7 linked regions of the Homo sapiens genome follow. The protein of the gene in region 7 interacts with the protein of the main gene of each other region in a pairwise test. Each region holds a gene or a part of one and is shown on either strand. Other genes may lie near its edges. The genes, in order: MTNAP1, LPIN1, SYNCRIP, MAGEC3, LARP4B, GABPB2 and PIAS4.

Evidence for each region.
Region 1: the proteins of PIAS4 (region 7) and MTNAP1 interact in binary tests that used the Homo sapiens proteins (3 or more experiments, as listed by UniProt).
Region 2: the proteins of PIAS4 (region 7) and LPIN1 interact in binary tests that used the Homo sapiens proteins (3 or more experiments, as listed by UniProt).
Region 3: the proteins of PIAS4 (region 7) and SYNCRIP interact in binary tests that used the Homo sapiens proteins (3 or more experiments, as listed by UniProt).
Region 4: the proteins of PIAS4 (region 7) and MAGEC3 interact in binary tests that used the Homo sapiens proteins (3 or more experiments, as listed by UniProt).
Region 5: the proteins of PIAS4 (region 7) and LARP4B interact in binary tests that used the Homo sapiens proteins (3 or more experiments, as listed by UniProt).
Region 6: the proteins of PIAS4 (region 7) and GABPB2 interact in binary tests that used the Homo sapiens proteins (3 or more experiments, as listed by UniProt).

The regions. Positions count from the first base shown.
Region 1 is NC_000017.11:73,238,933-73,242,432, forward strand, and holds part of MTNAP1 (mitochondrial nucleoid-associated protein 1), read left to right. Parts: intron 1-3,168; exon of another isoform or gene 3,169-3,311; coding exon 3,312-3,419; exon of another isoform or gene 3,420-3,490; coding exon of another isoform or gene 3,491-3,500. Other genes in the region: CPSF4L (putative cleavage and polyadenylation specificity factor subunit 4-like protein), read right to left, coding at 3,491-3,500. UniProt on the Homo sapiens protein: Critical regulator of mitochondrial DNA (mtDNA) abundance. Binds dsDNA throughout the mitochondrial genome without sequence specificity and controls mtDNA copy number by promoting its replication.
Region 2 is NC_000002.12:11,753,132-11,756,631, forward strand, and holds part of LPIN1 (phosphatidate phosphatase LPIN1), read left to right. Parts: intron 1-2,615; exon of another isoform or gene 2,616-2,733; intron 2,734-3,500. UniProt on the Homo sapiens protein: Acts as a magnesium-dependent phosphatidate phosphatase enzyme which catalyzes the conversion of phosphatidic acid to diacylglycerol during triglyceride, phosphatidylcholine and phosphatidylethanolamine biosynthesis and therefore controls the metabolism of fatty acids at different levels.
Region 3 is NC_000006.12:85,622,387-85,625,886, reverse strand, and holds part of SYNCRIP (heterogeneous nuclear ribonucleoprotein Q), read left to right. Parts: intron 1-1,774; coding exon 1,775-1,910; intron 1,911-3,199; coding exon 3,200-3,405; intron 3,406-3,500. UniProt on the Homo sapiens protein: Heterogenous nuclear ribonucleoprotein (hnRNP) implicated in mRNA processing mechanisms. Component of the CRD-mediated complex that promotes MYC mRNA stability.
Region 4 is NC_000023.11:141,876,316-141,879,815, forward strand, and holds part of MAGEC3 (melanoma-associated antigen C3), read left to right. Parts: intron 1-2,859; coding exon 2,860-3,116; intron 3,117-3,500.
Region 5 is NC_000010.11:858,706-862,205, reverse strand, and holds part of LARP4B (la-related protein 4B), read left to right. Parts: intron 1-3,500. UniProt on the Homo sapiens protein: Stimulates mRNA translation.
Region 6 is NC_000001.11:151,115,761-151,119,260, forward strand, and holds part of GABPB2 (GA-binding protein subunit beta-2), read left to right. Parts: intron 1-1,631; coding exon 1,632-1,756; intron 1,757-2,196; coding exon 2,197-2,496; 3' UTR 2,497-3,500. UniProt on the Homo sapiens protein: May function as transcription factor capable of interacting with purine rich repeats (GA repeats).
Region 7 is NC_000019.10:4,017,736-4,021,235, forward strand, and holds part of PIAS4 (E3 SUMO-protein ligase PIAS4), read left to right. Parts: intron 1-3,500.

The sequences.
Region 1 (3,500 bases), on a different chromosome or scaffold from region 7:
GTGTTTTGTTTTTTTGTTTGTTTGTTTTTTGAGACAGAGTTTTGCTCATTGCCCAGGTTGGAGTGCAGTGGTGTGATCTTGGCTCACCTCTGCCTCCTGGGTTCAAGCGATTCTCCTGCCTCAGCCTCCCAAGTAGCTGGGATACAGGTATGCGCCACCACGCCCGGCTAATTTTGTATTTTTAGTAGAGATGGGGTTTCTCCGTGTTGGTCAGGCTGGTCTTGAACTCGTGACCTCAGGTGATCTGCCCGCCTCAACCTCCCAAAGTGCTGGGATTACAGGTGTGAACCACCGTGTCCAGCCTTCTGTGTTTTTCAGTTGCAGATGCACACACTCCCCCCATGATAAATCTCTCTACCAAATTGAAGGACTTGTGTATTTTCTGTACTACATTTTATAGTGCTTAGGAGTGTCCTTGATACACACTTTTCATTTTAGAGGAAAAAGTGAGGGACCTGACGTTTATCTGTGATGACTATGACTATCGTTATGCTAGATACATTATGTCATTTAATCCTCATAACAGCTCTGAGTGACACCACTGTCCCACCCTCTTATTCCTCTTGAGGAATCTGAGCTTCAGACATCTTTTTTTTTTTTTCTTGAGACAGAGTCTTGCTCTGTCTCCCAGGCTGGAGTGCAATGGCACAATCACGGCTCACTGCAACCTCCACCTCCCAGGTTCAAGCGATTCTCCTGCTTCAGGCTCCAGAGTAGCTGGGATTACAGGTGCCTGCCACCACGCCCAGCTAATTTTTTTTTTTTTTAAGTAGAGATGGGGTTTTGCCATGTTGGCCAGGCTGGTCTCGAACTCCTGACCTCAGGTGATCCTCCCGCCTTGGCCTCCCAAAGTGCTGGGATTACAGGTGTGAGCCACCAGGCCTGGCCTGAGCTTCAGACATTAAGTGACTTCCCTATGTTCATGCAGTAAGTGACAGAATCAGGATTCAAACCCAGGTTCGTCTGACTCTACTAACTATTCCAAACAGTGAACCTCAAGTTGAGTTTAAAGACCACAGATAGAAGAGTCAGGTGAACCTGGAGGTATTAACTACTAACTCTCCCAAACAGTAAGCCTCAAGTAGAGTTTAAAGACCACAGATAGAAGTCAATACCTTGTTTGATATGTTATTGATACATTTCACTGTTAGCTCCTAAGAATACAATAATAAGATACAGTAACTTAAAACATTAAATTACCAAGGTTATGAGACAGGATATAGGAGGGAAAATAGAATTTTTTCTTCAGTAACAAGTTCCTTCCAAATAGTGGTGAGAAACTATTTTAATCCCTTTTATTGCTCATAGTCTGTAACTAATAAATGTTGTACTTAGTTTGGGACTTCTACATCAAGACAGTAAATAAGGTGTAATCATCATAGGGCCTCTACTTCTATTATAAACTGAAAAACTATTGAAGTTGGATCCAGGATCAGTGTTCAGACTTTGATGTTACCACCAAATGAACACAAGATACTAGAGGAGAGAGACCCTAGGATCAGGTCAAGCCCTGATCCCTCCATTGGCCAAGGACTTCAAGGCCATATCAATCTATAGGGATTAAAAGATGGTGCCATTGGCTCCTTAAAAAGCTTTGTAATTTCACCAGGCAATGACTGTCTCCAATGACTGCAAATTAGAGTTTTATTGGAATCTTTGCACAAGAGAATGGGCTATACCTTTTCTCACTCAGGCAAGACCTTTGATAGGTCATTTGCCCTTCTCAGGAAGCCAACTCATTCCTTTGGTACTTAAAAGGCAGGGCCAGTGAGCTAACAGTTACTGAATTAACTGCAGGTCAGGACAGTAGGCTCACCTGACTGGAGAAAGCAGGGCAAGGTCAGGGAGCCACGTGATCCTGACACTGCTGACAACATGGTTGCAATTTTCAGGAAGTTGTCTCTTTACACCGTTTTCCTCAAATTTTTTCCAAGATGAATGGGTTTTTTTTTTAAGAGACTAACCTTCACCTTGCAAGAGAATTATCTTCTGTGCAATTTCTTGGAAGCCAGCATGATTCTTTTCATTGTTCTTTAATGATCATTTGGATATTTTTACATCCACAGCAACTTTTACCACACTTGCTAAACCTGTTGTCGGTGTTTAATTTCTTCTTTATCTTGATGAACCAAACCAAGACTAGAGAACTATCAGTAGTAGAGATTACCTGTCATAAAACATGGAGAAAACCATGTACAGGAGAAATGTGATTAAGGAGCATAAGCCCTCTTTTTTTTGTTTTTGAGGCAGAGTCTTGCTCTGTTGCCCAGGCTGGAGTGCAGTGTAGCGATCTCTGCTCACTGCAAGCTCCGCCTCCTGGGTTCACGCCATTCTCCTGCCTCAGTCTCCCGTGTAGCTGGGACTACAAGCGCCCGCCACCACGCCCGGCTAATTTTTTCTGTTTTTTAGTAGAGACGGGGTTTTACAGTGTTAGCCAGGATGGTCTCAATCTCCTGACGTCGTGATCCACCCACCTCAGCCTCCCAAAGTGCTGGGATTACAGGCGTGAGCCACCGCGCCCGGCCTGCATAAGCCCTCTTTTCTGGTTCTGCTTAAGTTATTCATGCACTGAACATAAATAGGAAATGTTTGCTGGCCAATAATAGCGATAGGGTGATAGAACAGGCATGTTGACTGTGGGCAAGTCACAATCATAAAAGGAGAAAGTCACGCTTTTAGCTGACATGTTTAGCAGATGATAGAATATGTAAAAGAGGCCAGGCGCAGTGGTTCATGCCTATAATCCCAGCAGTTTGGGAGGCTGGGGCGGGCAGAACACATGAGGTCAGGAGTTCAAGACCAGCCTGGCCAAAGTGGCGAAACCCCGTCTCTACTAAATAACAAAAATTAGCCTGGCGTGATGGCGTGTGCCTGTAATCCCAGCTACTCGGGAGGCTGAGGCAGGAGAATCACTCGAACCCAGGAGGTAGAGGTTGCAGTGAGCCAAGATCATGCCACTGCACTCCAGCCTGGGCGAGAGAGTGAGACTGTGTCAAAAACAAAAAGATGATGTAAGAGACTCACTTCATGAAGCACATGCGCATCAATCACCTGGCCAGGGTACTCAGCAGACCAAAAAACAAGTAGACGCCCTGATTTTCAGGGGTCCCTTGGCCTTTTGAAAAACATTTTTTCAACCTGTAATTGATTTGACTTTCAACACTTAGCTGCAGTCCAATGCAGAAATCTTTAATGCACCTGTTTAGAATATGCTCTTCCTGAGGCTTAGCCGTGGATCCTTCGGCACTGGATGTTAGGGAAGGGGGTACGTTTCGGTAAACAATGACAGTGACTTCTGTTTGGAACCATAGTTTCTTTGTTGGAACGAAGCTCAACTCATATAAGGAGTTTGGAACCCCCTGCCGGACTTACAACCTCCAACTTCTCTCTAATGAGGCTCTTGGGAGCTGTACAAAAAGGTGAGGCTGGAGTTTGACTGTTGTCTTCTGTTGCAGGTTCTGGGCATTTGGAAAAGTTTCTCTTCGGGCTGTTAAGCAAGG
Region 2 (3,500 bases), on a different chromosome or scaffold from region 7:
AGACGCCTGCCACTTTGCCACCCTGGAAGCTCACTGCAAGAGCTGCAAAATTTCCCACCTGCCTAACACAGGCAGGGCTTTGGTGGCGGGACCCCAGGGCTGGCTGTTTTTGCTCTTTCATCACTTTTGTCAGGAAGTATTGAAAGACCTTTAAAAGGCCTCTGACTTGCAGGGCCTCTGACCTGCAGGCCTTTTAAAGCATCTCCAGCTTTTCTAGTGAGTTTTTGTATTTTGGACGGGAATGTCTCACGAACCCTGGCATGCCAAGAAAGTCCCCAATTTCCCAGCAGGTAGTGATGGATGCAGAGCTGTGCTCTTCTGTTTAAGAAGCTCCTCAAGGCACTCTGGCCAGGACAGTTTAACCACAGGGACGCTGGTGGACTCAGTCAATCCAGACCTGGCAGAGGGCAGCAGCTGCCTATAAGTGTGTGCCAGTTACAGCAGGGCGTGGGCTGCTGCCCAGGTGGCCTGACTTTCTGTCTGTGTTCCTTTCCCTGTATCACCCTGAGTCTGAGCCAGACTTCCTCTTTTGTCACAGGTAATTCATCACCCTTATCAACCGCCGTTAAGTATCAGTCCACAATGCTCTGAAAAGACTTCCTCTTTGCCGTAAGTGTAAATTACAGGAGGAAGCTAACACTATTTATAAATCAATTTCATTTTCATGCAAGTCTTATTAGTCATGATACCATTTTGGGCACTTCCTAGAAGCTTTTTGTGTTTTTAAATGCTTTGGATGAAAATCCTCATTTGTCTTGTAAACCTCCAAGGTGGATGTGATCTCGGCGAACACCAGTAACAGCGTGATGTTTGTGACTTTATCCAGTGCTGGGCGGACCACAGATAGAGTCCCCAGGTGCTGAGACACTGACTGTAGTGTGCTCAGAGGAGGGCGGCTAGGGCAGTGAGCAGGAAGCCCCAAAATCGTCCCTGTCAAGCCCAGCTGGGGAGCCGACAGTGCCTTCCCTAGAGGAAGGGTGCCAGGGGTGGTCATTTAGTTGTCCTGACATGATCCGTTGGCCCCACGAGCAGCAGCCAGGTCTGTATCTGAGAGCTGTAATTTCCTGCTGATAACAGGAACACAGATAAGGGGCACCCCATCCCAGAGTGATATTAGGTTGGCTTTTGAATCACCAGGCTCCTTGGATGTGCCTTAAGCCCACAGGTGCCCTTTAAGCACCTGCCGTGAGGGCAGATGTGACAGATCGTGTTTGCTCTCTGGGCAGTGAGTGGGTTTTGGGTAGCTTCTCTCCAGGAAATGATGAATCACTCGGAGCTGAGCAAGTGCCAGAGAAGTCTTCAATCACAGACTGAACCCAGGAGGGTGTTTCGGCCTTTCTAAGTCCTTAAGGGTTGTAGGGAAGGTTTTGAACAATGGCTTTTGACTTTACCTTCTGAGAGGCTCTGTCAGGGAGTGGTGATGCTGCGGGTGAGAGCAGTTTTGAAGGTGTCACATCCAGGGCCAACCCTGAGCCTTGCTTCTGTAGCCACCTCCTATGGGAGGTCATGACAATAATAAGATTTTGCATGTGTTGTCCAGGAGCAAAGACCTTTCCAAACTAGTCGTTGTGTTGACCACTGAGGATGACAGCCTGGTGGGCTCAGTCAGAGCCATTGTGTTAATACCCTGCTCCCACACACATAGCTGGTAAATGCCAGAAGTTAACACTCACAGCCAGGCCTTCCGACCCCCAATTTTGTGTCATTTCTGCTTTTCAGTCTTACCCTTAGGTGTCACAGCTGTTTATTTAAACTGTTTGCAGTGAATTTTGTTTGGGAGCATTGTCTTGTGAAATTTATGCTCTGGCAGAGAACAATTCCTGCTGTCTTCTTCATTTCTTCTAATTTTTTTTTTTTTTTTTGAGACGGAGTCACCCAGGCTGGAGTGCAGTGGCACGATCTCGGCTCACTGCAAGCTCTGCCTCCCGGGTTCACGCCATTCTCCTGCCTCAGCCTCCCAAGTAGCTGGGACTACAGGCGCCCGCCACCATGCCCGGCTAATCTTTTTTGTATTTTTAGCAGAGACGGGGTTTCACCATGTTAGCCAGGATGGTCTCGATCTCCTGACCTCGTGATCCGCCCGCCTCAGCCTCCCAAAGTGCTGGGATTACAGGCATGAGCCACCGCGCCCGGCCATTTCTTCTCATTTTTAAATTTTAGTGCTTTTCCCCCTCGTGCCCCGACTTGCCAAGCTACTTTGAGGGTGGTGGGTGCATCTTGCTGTTTTACACTCTGGAATGTCGTGATGGGACCAAAAATAAAAGTTTCTTGCTTGAGATGGGCCCTGCGATGGGGCAGGTACCGCGTCAGAAATGAGCAAGCCTCGTCCCTGTCCTCAAGGAGAGAAGACTCACTTGGTAGACAGATGTCTGTTCAGCCACTTGACAAATGACAGTAATATTGATCAAGCTACTGCCCTGGATGGCTGGGCTGGAGGGCTGAGGAGAAGGTTGAGGCTGAAAGATAGAGTTGTGTGGGCATGTTTATGAAGGGGTCATATACCTGGACAGCCGGGGGAGGAAATGGAGGAGGCAGGTGGAAATCCAGATTTGAGGGGTAATTATTGTTCAACTCCTGCAAGACACTTAGTTCTTTTTTTTTTTTTTTTGAGACAGAGTCTCGCTCTGTCGCCCAAGCTGGAGTTCAGTGGCGCCGTCTCGGCTCACTGCAAGCTGCGCCTCCTGGGTTCAAGCGACTCTCCTGCCTCAGCCTCCTGAGTAGCTGGGACTACAGGTGCGTGCCACTGTGCCTGGCTTATTTTTTGTATTTTTAGTAGAGACGTGGTTTCACCGTGTTAGCCAGGATGATCTCGGTCTCCTGACCTCATGATCTGCCCGCCTTGGCCTCCCAAAGTGCTGGGATCACAGGCATAAGCCACCACGCCTGGCCACTTAGTTCTTAAAGAAAGGAGAGTAGGAAGAAAAGTACAAGTGAGAAAGATGAACAAAAACGGGGATTGTAAGAGTACATTTATTGAGACAGTTTTGCATTTGCATTTGCTCGGCCAGTCTTATATATAATTAGATGTTGCTTACCATGACATCATTTCATTTCCAAGGAGCAAACCCACAATGTGAAAATGGACCCACTGTTATGTCCCAGATAACGTGCCTTAGGTAATGTTCTAGTTGAAGGAACTAGAAAGGGAATTAAAATCATTGTTATTTACTTGCATAATAAATGAGTGGAACAGCAGATTCCTGAATTGTCCATTAAGAGGCGTGGACTAAAATAATTCAAATCCCTTTATTTATTTATTTATTTTATATTTTTTTGAGATGGAGTCTCACTCTGTCGCCCAGGCTGGAGTACAATGACGTGATCTCAGCCCATTGCAACCTCTGCCTCCTGGGTTCAAGCAATTCTCCTGCCTCAGCCTCTCGAGTAGCTGGGATTACAGGCACTCACCATCATGCTAATTTTTGTATTTCTGTAGAGATGGGGTATTTTGTAGAGAGCCTGACCATGTTGGCCAGGCTGGTCTCGAATTCCTGACCTCA
Region 3 (3,500 bases), on a different chromosome or scaffold from region 7:
TGGGGGGCAAAATCACTCCTGTTGAGAACTGTTGGTCTGTGTTAACATGGAGGAGTATTTTGTTGACCCTTTTAGGATTTATGTATTGTAGTATTGGGTGGTTGAACTTAATTTACAGGTATCCAGAGGAGCTTGTATGGTAGAAGTTTCAGGGAAGGAAGGCAATTTCTTCAGAGCCATAGGAGTATAAAAATTGCATGTGGCCCAGCATGGTGGGTCACACCTGTAATCCCAGCACTTTGGGAGGCCGAGGCGAGTGGATCACAAGATCAGGAGTTTGAGACCAGCCTGGCCAACATGGTGAAACCCCGTCTCTACTAAAAATACAAAAAATAGCCGGGCATGGTGGCAGGCGCCTGTAATCACAGCTACTCGGGAGGTAGAGGGAGGAGAATTGCTTGAACCCAGGAGGCGGAGGTTGCAGTGAGCCGAGATAGTGCCACTGCTGCACTCCTGCCTGGGGGACAGAGCAAGACTCTGTCTCAGAAAAGACAAAAAAAAAAAAACCCTGTATGTTTAAGAGTTGATATAAAAAGGTATTTGAGAGAGAGAGGAGAAAGTAGCAGGAGTCATCTTTTTACTTTTTTTAATGTTGTGTCTCTGGCATAAATGTAGAGAAATAGAAGTAAACCTGGGATCAGGAGGGCCACACACTTGAATAGCCTGTACAGAATAGTGGGGTAGAAAGCAATAAATTTTTCTGAACTGGAGGTATGGTATTTGAACTTTATTAAATTTTGATTTTCTGGAGATGGGGAAGGGACAGGGAGGACTCAACTTTCTGACTTACATGTTTTCTTCTGTTATACCCGGTGTACCTAGCAAGGATGGGCATAATAGAAGAATGGTTTCTTTTGCTGTAAGGTATTTCTATAAAGTTGTATGGAAATTGATGTTGGTTCTTTAGTTTGTGTAGCTCCACGTGTAGAATAGATTTTGAGGTTAGGTGTGGGAGGATTAATCAATAATTATTGCCGCTGCTGCCGCCATTATTAGTAACAAATTTTGAGGTGTGGTTTTAACTAACCCATATAATCCACTTTTCTAGATTACTTGGATACTTTTGCACTTGGGTTTGTAAATAATACTAATTGGTGGATTTGTCACTTTGACATGTTGCTTTTTGCCTCTGCTTTCTGATAATCTGGGATATGGTTACTCGAAAATTCAATTTACTTTTTACTGTAGTTTTAAAGTTGTTTCTGTATATTTTTGCCATGACAAATCTACTTCTCTTTCTCCTTCATAATTTGTTATATGCATAATGAAAATGAAATGGGGAAAAAGTACAGTTGGATTTAGAAATAAAAGCTGTTTTTTTAGGCTTAAATATTTGAAGCCTGAAATTTCTTATTACAACTTTTGATAAGAGGAAGGGAAGATGGAAAAATAGATTTAGGTGCTGGTTAACAGAACGGCAGAGATCTTGCTGATCTTGGGATCAGTTTTCCTTGTATGAGAATAACTGGTTGATGGGATGAACTTAAGTAAAAGTTAAGTTTTTGAGGAACTGGCAGTTTTTGAATTTAAGCTGCTGCAGATCTGATTTCTAATTAATCAAGTAAAGGATTTAATAACCTTTTATTTGCATTAAATTGGTTCATGAACTTGTCCAATGGGTCTTGTTAATATAATCTGTTCCTCATAATTCCCTTGTATGGGAATTAAGGTAAACTACTTTTTAAAGGATGATTTGCTCTTGTGTATCTTTTATAATTAACTGTTCTAGTTGTATAAGTAATTTAAAAACATGATGCACTTTTTCCCCTTTCAGTATAATAATCATGAAATTCGTTCTGGAAAACATATTGGTGTCTGCATCTCAGTTGCCAACAATAGGCTTTTTGTGGGCTCTATTCCTAAGAGTAAAACCAAGGAACAGATTCTTGAAGAATTTAGCAAAGTAACAGGTAAGTTGGATTTATTTGGAATGAGGTGCAGCTTTTAATAATGAAGATTAATAGCATATTTCTGTGCGTCATGCATTGTTCTAAATACATTTATTGACTCATCGAATCCTCACTACAACTTTTGAAGTGTAGGTAACCCCATTTTTCAGATAAGAAGAACAGGCATTCAGGGATTTGGGAAATAACTTGCCAAACGTTGTACAAGTTAGTAGGGAATACAGCTAGGGTTTGAATTCATTCTGCAAAATCATTGTTCTTCCTATGTTTTGGAAGATCGTATTTCTTTGTGTGTTCTTTCTCTAGGTGTTAGTTGATGTTCTTAGTAGAATTGTTTGAATAATGATTTGATGTTCTTGAAATTACAGGAGTAGTAAGTATTGCCGTAGCAGAGTGTTTTTTTTTTTTTTTTTTTTTGGAGACAGTCTTGCTTTGTTGCCCAGGCTGGAGTGTGCTGGTGTGATCTTGGCTCCCTGCAGCCTCTGCCTCCCAGATTCAAGGGATTCTCTTGCCTCAGCCTCCTGAGTAGCTGGGATTACAGGCGCGCACCACCACACCTGGCTAATTTTTGCGTCTTTTGTAGAGGTGGGGTTTCACCATATTGGCCAGGCTGGTCTTGTACTCCTGACCTCAAGTGATCTGCTTGCCTCGGCCTCCCAGAGTGTTGCGATTACAGGTATGAGCCACCGTGCCTGGCCCATAAACAGAGTTTATATATTGTCAACATGGTAAAAAAATTTTTTGAACTGTAACAACTTTTAAGTGACAGGTTGCTTTTAGAAAATATTTTGGTCTGCCAACAGTGTCTAACAAATTATCAGCCTGTTATCAACTTTCAGGACATTGGAAATTTTTATGCAGTACTTATAACTTCTATTTTATTTGAAATAAAGCCATTGATATCTAAGGCCAGAAAAGTGCCATTAAAAATAATTTTAGTGTTTGCATAATAAGAAAAATAGCCATATTTGATCTATACTGCCATTTTCTTAGAACAATTATATGAAAATTTTTATCTGCCTCTCTGATCTAATTAGTGAAAACAAAAGTAGTCCTTACCTCTAAAAAGAGCACATGTTCTTTTCTGGAGATTTCTGTGTTGAAAAACTTGGAAACAGATTAGGAAAATAATCCGGACCTAGTTTTTGATAGTCTTTTATAAAGATGTCTAGTGAAGGAAAGAGATGATTTTTCATTTTGATATTTAAGTAGTATCTTAGATAAATCCTTTGATCCACTTGTATTTGCTAGTTATTTCATCTAATTTTCCTGGAATGGTTGCTTACTTGCAGAGGGTCTTACAGACGTCATTTTATACCACCAACCGGATGACAAGAAAAAAAACAGAGGCTTTTGCTTTCTTGAATATGAAGATCACAAAACAGCTGCCCAGGCAAGGCGTAGGTTAATGAGTGGTAAAGTCAAGGTCTGGGGGAATGTTGGAACTGTTGAATGGGCTGATCCTATAGAAGATCCTGATCCTGAGGTTATGGCAAAGGTAATGATAGTCAAGTTAAAAATATTTTTTGAGGGATTAATGGGAGAAGGGCCGGGGTTGGGGTGGGGGGAACATAAAATGAACAGTATACATTT
Region 4 (3,500 bases), on a different chromosome or scaffold from region 7:
GCCAAGTAAGAGGGAATTAATGCAAAGTTGTCCCAGGTAGCCTTCCCCCAGCCACTATTGAGATTTCAAGTCCTGCTCTCAGGAAGCAAAGGTTCATGAAAGCAGTCAGGCCTTTTATGGCTGAGACAAGGGGGCAGAAGTAGCTGCTATTTCCTGTGCTCCTCTTTGACTCTTATCTTACTTCTCCCTGGTACTGAAGTGACCAAAGACCCCAGCCTCTTTCAGTGCTTTCAAATCCAGCCTTACAGATGCTCTAATTTACTCATACTGCGAACTTGCTTAAAGATAATTTATACAAAGACTTATTATTCTAAGAATGTCTGTGTATTTCTGAGGTTTTTTATAATAAACATATTTTAAGGTAGGTTTTGAATTTCCCTGTAATTGTTTTTTCTGTTTAATATGAAAAAGGGTTCCACTTACATTAGGGTTTTTGTATGGATATTCTGTTGTTCCACTGACACTTATTTCAAGAAGACTGTCTCCTGTTCTAAAGCTGCAAGTTTTAAAAATCAGTTAAGCACATGTTTATACATGTTTTGTTGGTTTTGTTTTTCAGAACTCTCCATTCAGTTCCTTTGGTCTATCTGTCAATCTCTGCACCCAAATCTCAAACTCTTCATTATAGTAGCTTTGTAATTCTTACTGTCTGGTAGACTAATGACTCTTTTTCAAGTGTATATTGACTATGCTTGTCCATTTGCATGTCTTTATATTTTAGAATCAGGTGATTCACACATGCCTTCATGTCCAAAGCCCTTTGGCAGTTTTGATTTAGGATTGCAGTCGATCTGTAGATTCCTTTTTGGGAAGAATCAACATATTTAAAATATTGAATCTTCATGCCCATGAATTTATTTTATTTTATGTTCAGGTAGGTCTTTGTTAATATGCCTCAACAGCATTTTAATATTTTTGTCTGTAAAAATTTTTTGGTTAAGCTTTTTTAACCAAAAAATATTTTAACCAGCCATCAGCTGCCTCCCAGTCTTATTTGGTTAAAATGTTTTTGGTTAAATTATTTTCCTAAGATACTTGATATTTTGGTACTATAGGTTAAAATTATATAGTCTTTACTTTCATTTTCATACTCTTTCCCTGACAAAAAACGAAGTTGATATTCTTTTGAATATTGACCTTATACTAGCAAACTGATATACTATTATATATTGAATAAATTATCTTTAGTTGTTTTGGATTCTTTTCATGCACAGTCTAATCATGCATGAATCACAAACGCTTTGTTTCCAACTGGCCAATCCTCATTCCTTCATTTACTGCTCTTTGGATTACTACACTGGCTACTACCTCTAGTATAAAAAGTAATAGAAGTACTTGTAGCAGAAACTCTAGGTTAGGTCTCAAGTTCAAACTAGAGGCTTCCAACATTTCCTTAAAAGATGTATCTGTTGTAGGTTTTTCATGCATATCCTTTTATCTAGTTTGGTAACATTTTTCATATTTGATAAACTTTATGTTTAAATAATTTTAGATTTACAAGAAAATTATAACAATAGTAAGAAAGTTCTCATATGTTCCACACTCAATGCCTCCTGTTATTAACACCTTACCTTGGTAAGGTTTCCTAAAACTAATGAGCCAGTATTTGTACATTGTTTTTAACAAACATTCTTTATTTATTATTGAACATACTTCAGTCACATTTTCTTACTTTTCACGAAATTCTATTTTCTATGCCAGGATCCCCTAAGGATACTCCATTACATTTAGTTATCATGTTCCTTCGATGCCCTTTGGCTGTACCGGTTGATTGAGACATTTCTCGATTTTGAAAACATTGACAGTTTTGACAGTTTCGTATGGTTAGGTATTTTGTAAAATTGACTTTGACTGGGATTTATGTGATTTTTTTCTGTCATGATTTGATGTAGGTAATGTTTCCTGGAAGGATGAACAGAGAGGTGAAGTGCCGTTCTTATCATACCGACAGCACATAGTACCAACAAAATTTGTCACTGATGATGTTAACTTGATTACCATGGCATCATCGTGCTTTTTAGCTTTATTCAGGGTAAAATTACATTATTTTTTGCCGTATGTTATACTGTCATCATGAGAAGAACAGGGAGACCCAGGACCAGCCAGTAGTCACATGAAGCCTCTGAGAGATAACTGCAAGACTCCCTGCCCACAAAGAGAAGGATCCACAGAATCCAGCTCCACTGCTGCTGTCAGCCCTGGGAGGCCCTGGGGCATGGTGGCCCACTGTGGTGTCCCCCTGACATTTTAGAGGGTAGAAAGAGGAGAAGGCTCTGCCTAGGTGAGTCTCACTTCAGATCATGAGAGGTGAAGGGACTCAGGCCCTTCCAGGCATCCCCAGGATGACACAGAGGAAGGACTGGTGAGACACCCCTCCCAAGAAACAGAAGGACACACAAATCCAGGCCCTGTTTTCACCCCTGGGAGGCCTTGGGCAGGGCCCTCAGTCAGAGATGCTAGCGCTTTTCACTTCGTCTTGGGGGGCGTCTCATGGAAATGGGGACCTTGATCTGAAGAACATAGTCTCTGGACAGCAGGGGAAGGGCTCCCAGGCCATGTCAGGAATAATAACTGCAGGAAAACAGAGAGTCCTGCCCACCCCATTTTAGAAAAAGGACACCAGAGTCCTGCCTTGGGCCTGGGAGGCCCCACCCCACTGTGGGTGGATGTGATTCTCCCTCTCTTGCACCTTGCAGGTCTCAGGGATGGGAGGGGCTTATTCGGAGGTGAAAGACTCAGTTGCACAGAGGCAGGAAGGCCAGGCGGTTTCCAGGAGTCCAGGCACAGCCTCTCGGGAAGGCAGGAAGGGAACACCCATGACTGGTAGTGCCCCTCCCCTGTCCCTGTGCCTGCTGCCAGCTCTGGAGGACCCTATCAGGGTCCCCAGGTTTACAACTTTCTGACTTGCATTTTGGGAGTCAGCCGGAGGGGAAGTTTTCTCTGAGGAGGGCAGTTTCAGTTAAGCAGAGGGAGGAACCCCAGGACTGGCCACTCAACGAGAAGAGAACTCTGTGGAAGGACAGTGACCTTCCAACATGGAGGAGAGGCACAGGCTACACCCTTTCCCTTCCTGCCGTCAGCCCTGGAAAAAGGTTGTGGGGGGAGAAAGCGGGGAGGTGGGCAGGGAAATATGGACGAGGGCTTTGAAGTGAGGAGGAAAAGGTGGAGGGATACCGAGAGGTGGGCAGGAAGGGGTGGAAAGGGTCGGGGAGGTAGGCAGGAAGGGGTGGAGGGGGCCCAGGAGATGGGCAGGAAGGGGTGGAGAAGGGCCGGGAGGTGGTCAGGAAAGTGTGGGAAAGAGGTAGAGAGGTGAGGGGTGGTTCCTCCATAGAGAGGAGACCTAGCCCCACTGGGAGTCTGAAGTATTTGAGGCATTTTGTGAGAAGGCTTAATTGAGATCAGCAGACAGAAGACTCTTAGAACTGGCCGATCCTCAAGGTAAGGGCCCTAAGGGAGAACTGAGGGACCTCCCACCACAGAAAGAAGAAGCTCTTGCCTGC
Region 5 (3,500 bases), on a different chromosome or scaffold from region 7:
GTATTTATAAAGGTACAAAAATTAAGCCATGCTTGTTTCTTGTAAATATAAATTTGCCATCTTGAATTTGCATAAAGTGAATTTCCCGTCTACATGAGCAGTTTTCTAAATCTGAGGAAGGCCAGTATTCAGCAATGTAATTTGATTACATCCCCCTTGTTAATTCACCAGTAACTGGTTAGTGACTTGGGAATGGCAGAACATTGGGATAAACTGGAGTCATGTTAGAGTCCATTGAATTTAAGATGGCAAAGGAAAGGAATGCTCATCATTAAAACAGATTTTTACAAAAGATAAAAAGGCATTATACATTGAGGGAGTGAGAATCCTAATGGTAGGAAGTAAAATGGTTCAAAATAAACAATTTAAGTTTCAGACTAAATTGAAATGACCTAATCTTGAACTGGGGTCAGAATTTATACAGAAGATGGAAGATAGATAGGAGGTAGACAGATGTGAAGATCTGTCTTGAGGATGGAAGATGGGTAATGTTATCAACAGTGAAATAACTTGTGAAAATCTGCCTGAAGACAGGAGATAGATAACGTTACCAAAAGTGAAATAACATGTTAAAATCTATCTGAAGATAGAAGATAGGGAACATTATCAAAAGTGAAATAACAACATGTTAAAGTATATTCTGGAAAGTTTAATTTCAAAAGGTGATTCTTTTTAAAAGGGGTATTTAAAACTATTTTCAAAAAGAAGAAAAAGAATACCTTCTGCTTTGTCTTCCTCCTTCATCTGCCTCCACCTACTCCCTCTCTCACTCCTATAAAGCATTAGTGAGGCATAACCGATGTACAATAAACATCATATACTTCAGGTATACCCCAGATTTTCTGTAGCTTACAGACAATTGAGGAAATAATACATTATTAATGTGTTGCCTCTTTCATTCCTCTTTGCTTTGTCCACCCAGTTTGATAAGTTGTTCTGTACCTGTAAAATCCTCAGCACAATCAAGATCACGAACATCCCAAACACCAGGAAGAGCTTCCTGTGCCCTCTCCTTTCTCCGTGGAACCGGTGGTCTGTTTTTTTCTTTTTGAGATGGAGTCTTGCTGTGTCACCCAGGCTGGAATGCAGTGGCGTGATCTCGGCTCACTGCAACCTCCGCCTCCCGGGTTCACGCCATTCTCCTGCCTCAGCCTCCCCAGTAGCTGGGACTACAGGTGCCCACCACCACACCCGGCTAATTGTTTGTATTTTTAGTAGAGACGGGGTTTCACCGTGTTAGCCAGGATGGTCTTGATCTCCCGACCTCATGACCCGCCCACCTCGGCCTCCCAAAGTGCTGGGATTACAGGTGTAAGCCTTCATGCCCGGCCCAGTGGTCTGTTTTCTATCACTATATGTCAGTTTGCGTTTCGTAGATTTTTTTTCTCTTTAAAAAAAAAGATGGAACTCCTGGGCCCAAGAGATGTGCATCAGCCCCACAAGTTGCTGGACAACAGACGTGTGATAGAATTTGACAGTGTGTACTGTTTTTGTCTGACTTAGGTTACTATTTTTGAGACTGATTCATGTTGTAACATGAATTAATCATTTATTTTTATTGCTGAGAAGTATTCATGATATGGATAGATCACAGTTTGTTTTTCTATTCCCCTATTCATGGATTTTGGGATTGTTTTCAAAATGTGGCTTTGCCAATAAAAAGTGTTCATAAAAGTGAACATTTGTCAGCAAGATTTCATATAAACATATGTTTTCATTTCTCTTGGGTAAAATACCTAGGAATGGAGTAGCTGGATCATCTGGTAGGCATGTTTATCCTTTTAAGAAATGGTAAGGCAGTTTTCCAAAGTGGTGGTACCATTTTCTATTCTCAACCAGTGGTGGATTAAAGCACCACATCCTTATGACCCTTATGACCTCAGGGTCAGTCTTTAATTTTAGCTGCTGTAAAAGGGAGACAGTAGAATCTTACTGTGGCTTTAATTTATGTTTCCCTAAGGACTAATGCTATCAAACATCCTTTTTAAAAAAAAGACTGTTTTTTTTAGAGCACTTTCAGGTTCACAGCGAGTTTTAGTGGAAGGTATAGAGATCTCCCATATACTCCCCTCCCCCCCACCCCCACACATGCATGGCCTTCTTCACTATTCACACTCCCTCACCAGAGGGTGCCTTTGTATAATTGATGATCCTATATTGGCACATCATTATTACCTGGAGTCTACAGTTTACATGAGGGCTCACTCTTGGTGTTGTACGTTCTGTGGGTTTGGAGAAATGTATAATGACATGTACCCTCCATTGTAGCATCAGAGAGAGTAGTTTCCCTGCCCTAAAAGTCATCTGTGTTCTGCCTACTCACCCCTCCCTCCCCCCAACCCCTAGCATCCATTGGTTTTTTCACTGTCTCCATAGTTTTACCTTTTCCAGAATGTCATAGGGTTGGAATCCTGCAGGATGTAGCCTTCTTAGATAGGTTTCTTTCATTTAGTAACGTACATTTAAGCTTCCTCCATGTCTTCAAGGCTTGATAACTCATTTCTTTTTAGCACTGAATAACATTCCATTGTCTGGACATACTACAAATTACTTAGTCATTCACCTACTGAAGGACATCTTGGTTGTTTCCAGGTTTTGGCAATTACAAATAAAGATGCTGTTAGCATTCATGTGCAGGTTTTTGTACGGAAGGAAGTTTTTAACTCCTTTGGGTAAATACCCAGGAGTGTGATTGCTGGATCATAAGGTCAGAGTATGTTTAGTTCTGTAGAAAGCTGCTGAACTGCCTTCCAGAAGTAGAATTTCTGGATCATATGGTAATTCTTATGTTTAACTTTTTTTGGTGGAATCACCATACAGTTTTCCATACAGGCCATAGTATTTTACATTCCCACCATCAGTGTACAAGGGTTCCAGTTTTATTAAATCCTTGCCAATACTTGTTATTTTCTGATTTTTTTTTTTTTTTGAAATGGAATAATTCTGTTGCCCAGGCTGGAGTGCACTGGAGCAATCTCAGCTCACTACAACGTCCACCTCCCGGGTTCAAGCAATTCTCCTGCCTCAGCCTCCCAAGTAGCCTAGATTACAGGTGTGAGCCACCACGCCCAGCTAAATTTTGTATTTTTAGTAGATACGGGGTTTCACCATGTTGGCCAGTCTGGTCTCAAACTCCTGACCTCTGCCCATCTCAGCCTCCCAAAGTGCTGGGATTACAGGCGTGAGCCACCACACCCAGCTAACTTTTGTATTTTTTGTAGAGACAGGGTTCAACCATGTTGTCCAGGCTGGGTTCGAACTCCTGACCTCAGGTGATCTGTCTGCCTCGGCCTGCCAAAGTGCTGTGATTACAGGCATGAGCCACTGCGCCCAGCCTATTTTCTGATTTTTTTGATAGTAGTCATTCTAGTGGGTATATCTTTGTAGTTTTGGCTTGCATTTCCCTAATGGTTAGTGATGCCAAGCACCCTTTTTGTTCTTATTGGCCATTTGTCTTCTTTGGATAAATGTCTATTCAAATCCTTTGCCTATTTTTGAAT
Region 6 (3,500 bases), on a different chromosome or scaffold from region 7:
TAATCCAGTATGTCTACATCCTCTCCAGCATTTGGTATCATCACTTTTTAAAAAACTTTTAGCCCGGCACAGTGGCTCACACTTGTAATCCCAGTACTTTGGGAGGCCAAGGCAGGTGGAATATCTGAGGTCAGGAGTTTGAGACCAGTCTGGCTAACATGGAGAAACCTCATCTCTATTAAAAATACAAAAATTAACTGTGTGTGATGGCATGCACCTGTAGTCCCAGCTACTCAGGAGGCTGAGGCAGGAGAATTGCTTGAACCCAGGAGGTGGGGGTTGCAGTGAGCTGAGATTGTGCCACTGCACTCCAGCCTAGGTTACAGAGTGAGACTTCTCGATAAAAAAAGGCCGGGTGTGGTAGCTCACGCCTGTAATCCCAGCACTTTGGGAGGCCAAGGCAGGTGGATCACGTGAGGTCGGGAGTTTGAGACCAGACTGACCAACACGGAGAAACCCTGTCTCTACTAAAAATACAGAATTAGCCGGGTGTAGTGGGGCATGCCTGTAATCCCAGCTATTTGGGAGGCTGAGGCAGGAGATCACTTGAACCTGGGAAGCGGAGGTTGCAGTTAGCCATTGCACTCCAGAGATCACGCCATTGCACTCCAGTCTGGGCAACGAGAGCAAAATTCCATCTCAAAAAAAAAAAAAAAACAACTTTTAGCCATTCTGACAGATGTGTAGTGTGTCATGTGTGTTGTGTGTGTGTTGACTCTTCTCTCACTTATCTATGAGAAGAGAATTAATTTAGGTACAGATAATGGCTATTGGCTTTTATTAGAGGTCTCAAAAATATATAAAGACTTCAGGCCTTCTTTTGACAGATTATTTCTGCAGTTTTTTTTGTTTGTTTGTTTGTTTTAAGACAGGGTCTCATTCTGTCACCCAGGCTGGAGTGCAGTCGCGAGTTCTTGGCTCACTACGGCCTCAACTTCCCAGGCTCAGGTGATCCTCCCACTTCAGCCTCCCAAGTAGCTGGAATTACAGGCATGCTCCACCATGCCTGGCTAATTTTTTGTATTTTTTTTGCGGAGACAGTGTTTGCCATGTTGCCCAAGCTGGTCTTGAACTCCTGGGCTCAAGTGATCCTCCCACCTTAGCCTCCCAACATGCTAGAATTATAGGTGTGAGCCACCTTGCCCTGCCATTTCTGGGCGGATTGATAAGCTAATTGGCCATAGGTGACCTAGAGTCAGACACCTTCATATAAGAGCTTCAGACTTGGGACTTACTTGCATGGCTTCCAAGCCTGCAAATCTATACCCTTCCTTTTTGAGCCATTCTCAGTGCTCTATTAATCCTTTTTGTTTCTCCCTGAAGGGCCATGCCTTACCTGTTGATTCGAAAATTCAAAGAGATATTAAAAATAATATATCAAGGAATATATTTTACTTTCTCTTTCTTTGCTTTTTTGTTGAGATGGGGTCTTGCTGTGTTGTCTAGGCTAGTCTTGAACTCCTGGATTCAAGAAGTCCTCCAGTCAGCTGCCTGAGTAGCTAGGACCACAGGCACACACCACTGTACCCAACCTAGAATATATTTTAGTTTATTTTCTAATTAAAAGCAAGCAAAACCTCTTTGTTTTATTATGCATTCATCACCTCCAATTGGTGTCCTTTGACTTGTAGTTCTAACTGTACCTGCTGGTAAGGTTGCAGAGGAGACTGTAATTAAAGAGGAAGAAGAAGAGAAGTTGCCACTAACAAAGAAACCAAGGATAGGAGAGAAGACAAACAGTGTGGAGGAAAGCAAGGTAATGTTTTTAGGAGTGATGAAAAGAATTTAAAGCCTTAATTATTAAGGCCTGAACCCTTCTTCATCTTTTCTTTTTTCTTTTTGAGACGGAGTCTTGCTGTGTTGCCCAGGCTGGAGTACAGTGGCATGATCTCAGCTCACTGCAACCTCCGCCTCCCGGGCTCAAGTGATTCTCATGCCTCAGCCTCCTGAGTAGCTGGGATTACAGGCACCTGCCACCATGCCTGGCTAATTTTTGTATTTTTAGTAGAGACAGGGTTTTGCCATGTTGGCCAAGTTGGTCTCGAACTCTTGACCTCAGATAATCTGCCTACCTCTGCCTCCCAAAGTGCTTGGATTATAGGTGTGAGGCACCGCTCCTGGCCTGTCTTTTTGTCTACTGTCTGGATAATTTATGATCAGGAATTTACCTGGTGGTGACATGGCTTACTTTTACAGGAAGGCAATGAAAGAGAGCTACTACAGCAACAACTCCAGGAGGCCAATCGAAGAGCCCAGGAATACCGACACCAGCTCCTAAAGAAAGAGCAGGAAGCAGAACAGTACCGTCTTAAGCTGGAGGCCATAGCCCGACAGCAGCCCAATGGAGTTGATTTCACCATGGTTGAAGAGGTGGCTGAGGTAGATGCTGTAGTAGTCACAGAGGGGGAGTTGGAAGAGAGAGAGACAAAAGTGACTGGGTCAGCAGGGACCACAGAGCCTCACACTAGAGTTTCCATGGCAACTGTTTCATCTTAATATGCAAGGGCCACAATTTGCACTGTGTTCATATTAATCCTCTTTTAAAAAAGGAAATATACAGAAGACAAACATTGTATAAAAACTAAGAGTGTCTTTAAGAAGAAAACTATAGCAGGGTACAATGCTTGGGCTCAGGAAGTTTCTCTGTGCAACTAGAAAATTCAAAGCCATATTTAGGGAACATTTTTTCTGAGGGGCCAAAAGAATAAAGGACCAAATTTCTTAGCTCATATCATTGCTTTAAACATAGAAGTAAAAGAATACTGCATGTTGTGGGTTGATTTTTTTTTTTTAAATAACTGACTTTCTCACAAAAGATTTTAAGATAACATTTCTAATATATATGCACCAATATATATGCCTTTAATAATTATACCATCAAGTGACCTGAAAATGCCCCTTAGATTTATGATGCGTATCTGTTGGAAAAACCAATTGGAAGGGAAGTTAGACAAGCTTTGGGGAAGAGAAAAGGAATATAGTCCATTTCCAAAGGAGCAGGAACTCCCAACCTTAAGTTAATTTCACTGAAGAGAATTTTCCCTTTTTTTTTTTTTTTTTGAGACACGGTCTGACTCTGTCACCCAGGCTAGAGTACAGTGGTGCAATCTTGGCTCACTGCAACCTCCGCCTCCAGGGCGCAGCCTCCTGAGTAGCTGGGAGGACAGGCATATGCCACCACATCACTGAGAAGAAATTTTTGATTGTCTGACAGATACTTATCCATTATGTGTCTATAGTTCAGATGCTTGTGTAAGAAACTGAAATAAGCTGCGTGTGGTGGCTCACACCTGTAATCCCAACACTTTGGGACGTTGAAATGGGAGAATTGCTTGAGTCCAGGAGTTTGAGATGCGCCTGGGCAACATAGAAACCTGTGTCTACAAAAAATTTAAAAATTAGCCAAGTATGGTGACAGGCACCTATGGTTCCAGCTACTCAGGAGGCTGAGGTGGGAGGATCGCTTGTGCCTTGGAGGTCAAAACTGCAGTGAGCCATGG
Region 7 (3,500 bases):
GTGGCGCGATCTTGGCTTACTACAGCCTCCTGGCTTCAAGCGATTCTCCTGCCTCAGCCTCCCAAGTAACTGAGATTACAGGCACGCACCACCACACCCAGCTAATTTTATGTACTTTTAGTAGAGACGAGGTTTCACCATCTTGACCAGGCTAGTCTTGAACTCCTGACTTCAGGTGATCCACCTACCTTGGCCTCCCAAAGTGCTGGGGTTACAGGCGTGAGCCACTGCGCCCAGTCTCATTTTTTGTATTTTTAATGGAGACGGGGTTTCGTCATGTTGACCAGGCTTGTCTTGAATTCCTAACCTCAAGTGATCCACCTGCCTCGGCCTCCCAAAGTGCTGGGATTATAGGCGTGAGCCACCAGGCCCGGCCCCAGTCAGCCTTTTAAAAACTCCCTGTGTTTCATTTCTATTTAAACTTGTACAATTATGCGCTTGTCCTAGAAAACTGGAGTCAACAGCAGAGCAGTCCGGCCGGCGCCCTGCTGCCCGAGTGGGCCGCCTCGGTACACCGGGCCGGTGCTTGCCGCCTTCTCCCTTTGCATGTGTGATTGTAGGAATGTGTGGCTGTGTCCTGGCTGCTATTTTATAACCACCCCCCATACTGTGAGCATCTGCTCACAGCGTTAAATATTCATCGTCAGCAGCATCTCGTGAGGCTCCCTGGCAGCCTTGGGTGGAGCCAACGGCTGGGCCCTTCTTGTTGGGCTCTCGGATCGGGCCCAGGGGCTGCTTTTCGTGCCCGGGCCGGAGGGCCTGGCTGAGCACCTCACCCCAGAACCGGCTCTGCCTGGCAGGGCCCCCGTGGTCACCTGATCTTGCACCTGGCCCCAAAGGTGCATCTGGTTCAGTGGTGCCCTTGCCTTGGTCCCGTGGCCTTGGATGCTGGGCAGCCCACGAAACCATCTCCCCCTTGGGGAACTTCATGCTTCAGTGGCCCAACAAGAAGGAGCAGCAGAGTGATGTAGGGAAACTGAGTCGCTCCTTAGGAGGAGAAGGTTTGGAGAAAAGTGAGGTGGCGGGGGGTGCGGTTTTTAAATGGGGTGCTCAGCGAAGGCTTTCCTTCTGGTGACATTTGTACAAAGACAAATATAGGGCCATGAGGCTGGTCGGGGGAGGAAGGTTCCAGAAGAGGGAATGGCAGGTGCGGAGGCCCTGATGCAGCATGGCTGGTGGGGCCCAAGCAGGAGGCCAGGGTGGTGGCCGTGTGTGCGCCGGGGTGTGTGTGGCCCTGAGCAGGGGTACTGAGGGTCAGGGGTCTCCTGCGGAGCCATCCCAGGGGGCGGGCTCTGGCTGCTGAGACCGGCAGAGCTGGGGGCAGTCGTCTGCACCGGGCGGGATTTGAAAACAGAGCTGACAGGACTGGCTGAGGGAGTGGATGTTTGCAGGACAGCAGAGACGGGGGCTTCATGGATGCCACCTGGGTTTCTGGCCCCAAACAGCTGACCCCGAGGGCAGAAGGGCAGGTTTGAGGGAGACCCCACAGCCCCTTCCCCAGCATAGGGGGGCCGGGTGTTTGGGGGGAACCGTCAGCGGCCCGGGGCCAGTGGCACAGCAGTGAGAGCACAGGGCACCTCCCAGGCCCCCAGCAGAGAAGCACAGCCCGGTCTCCCCCAGAGGGAGGAGCCCTCCCAGGGCAGGGACCCCAGAGTCTTGTTCTTCAATGACTGGGCCCTGTCTGCCCCAGGCATGGGCTGGCAACAATCCCTGGCCAGCTGGGTGGCTCCCTTGCTGCCTGCTGGGGACCCACCCTTCTCCCCTACCTCCTTCTGAGACACTGAGGGGTGGGGTGTCTGTGTTTTCACCTCCGACCCAGCCTGGAAGCTCAAGGCCCAGCTCAGGTGTAGGCTCCCGTGCAGCCTCCCTGCCCCTGAACCATTGCTCCCCTGGCACTCAGGGCAGACCTGGGCGCGTCTGCAGGTGGCCTGTGTGCCCCCCTCCCAATTAGGCGGCCTTCCTCAAGGGCCCAGCCGGGACTCCACAGCCCATCACCTCTGCAGAGACTGGCTGTGCCCTGAGCATATAAACGGGAACCGGCTGTGGCAGCCCCCTCTTCCTGAGGGCCAGCCACAGACCCGGCACCGGTCCCCGAAGAAACAGGTCAACATGGGCGGGACGTGCAGGCTGAGGCCACAGAGGCCCTGGCAGGGCTGGGAGCCGAGCCCAGGGAGTCTGGCTTTTTTCTTTTTTTTTTTTTTGAAATGGAGTCTCGCTGTCGCCCGGGCTGGAGTGCAGCGGCAGGATCTCAGCTCACTGCAAGCTCCGCCTCCCAGGTTCACGCCATTCTCCTGCCTCAGCCTCCCGAGTAGCTGGGACCACAGGCGCCTGCCACCACGCCCGGCTAATTTTTTGTATTTTTAGTAGAGACGGGGTTTCACCATGTTAGCCAGGATGGTCTCTATCTCCTGACCTCATGATCCGACTGCCTCGGCCTCCCAAAGTGCTGGGATTACAGGCGTGAGCCACTGCACCCGGCTTCTCGTGGGTTTTAATTGAGAAAGTTCCAAGACAGTGCTGGTAGTTGAGGTGCGATCCCATGGCTCCGGTTCTTGTAAAGGCCCTGTCGTGGGTGCAGGCCACACCACTGTGTGCACTGCCGTCCTGGGAGCACCTGGGAGCACAGACATAGCCTGCGAAGCTGATGAGCTCCAGCCTTTACCAGGGGCAGTTCGCCATCCCTGTTCTAAAGGGCTTGCCTGTCATCTCGTTGTCTCGTCTCCCGGCCACTGCAAGGCTGCCATTGTGGCCAGATTCTCGCTCCCCCACGCTCTTCCGATATTTTTTACACTTATAAACAAATAGGTGTTTACTCAGATGCCTTCTCTCCATTTTCATTACACAAGTGATAGCAGGACGTGCACGCTGCTCAGCGTTTTTGCTTTGTATCTAAATATATTTTTTAATGTAGACACAGTCTTGCTATGTTGCCCAGGCTGGTCTCGAACTTCTGAGCCCAAGCAGTCCTCTCACCTCAGCCTCCTGAGTAGCGGGAATGACAGCTGCACACCAGCACACCTGGCTCAGGCTTATTTAAAAACTTTTTTTAGAGACAAGGTCTCACTGTGTTGCCTGGGCTGGGCTCCAACTCCTGTGCTACAGCGATCCTCCCACCTTGGCCTCCTGAAGGGTTGGGGTTACAGGCATGAGCCGCTGTGCCCAGCCTGCAAGTTTCTTTGAACGCATGTTTCCATGTATTGAGGGAAAATACTTTGGAGTGGGATTCCTGATTCCTGGGTGATAGGGTAGGTCTGTGCTTACCTTTATAAGGGTAGTTTCCCAGAGTGATGGTACTGTCTTATAACCCCACCAGCAGAGAGTTCTGATTGCTCTACACCTTTGCCATCTCTTAGAGTTGCCAGTCCTTTCATTTTAGCCATGCTAGTGGGTGTGTAGAGAGGTATTTTATTTTATTTTACCTCATTTTATATTATTGATACAGAGCCTCACTCTGTCACCCAGGCTGGAGTGCAGTTACACAATCTCGGCTCACTGCAACC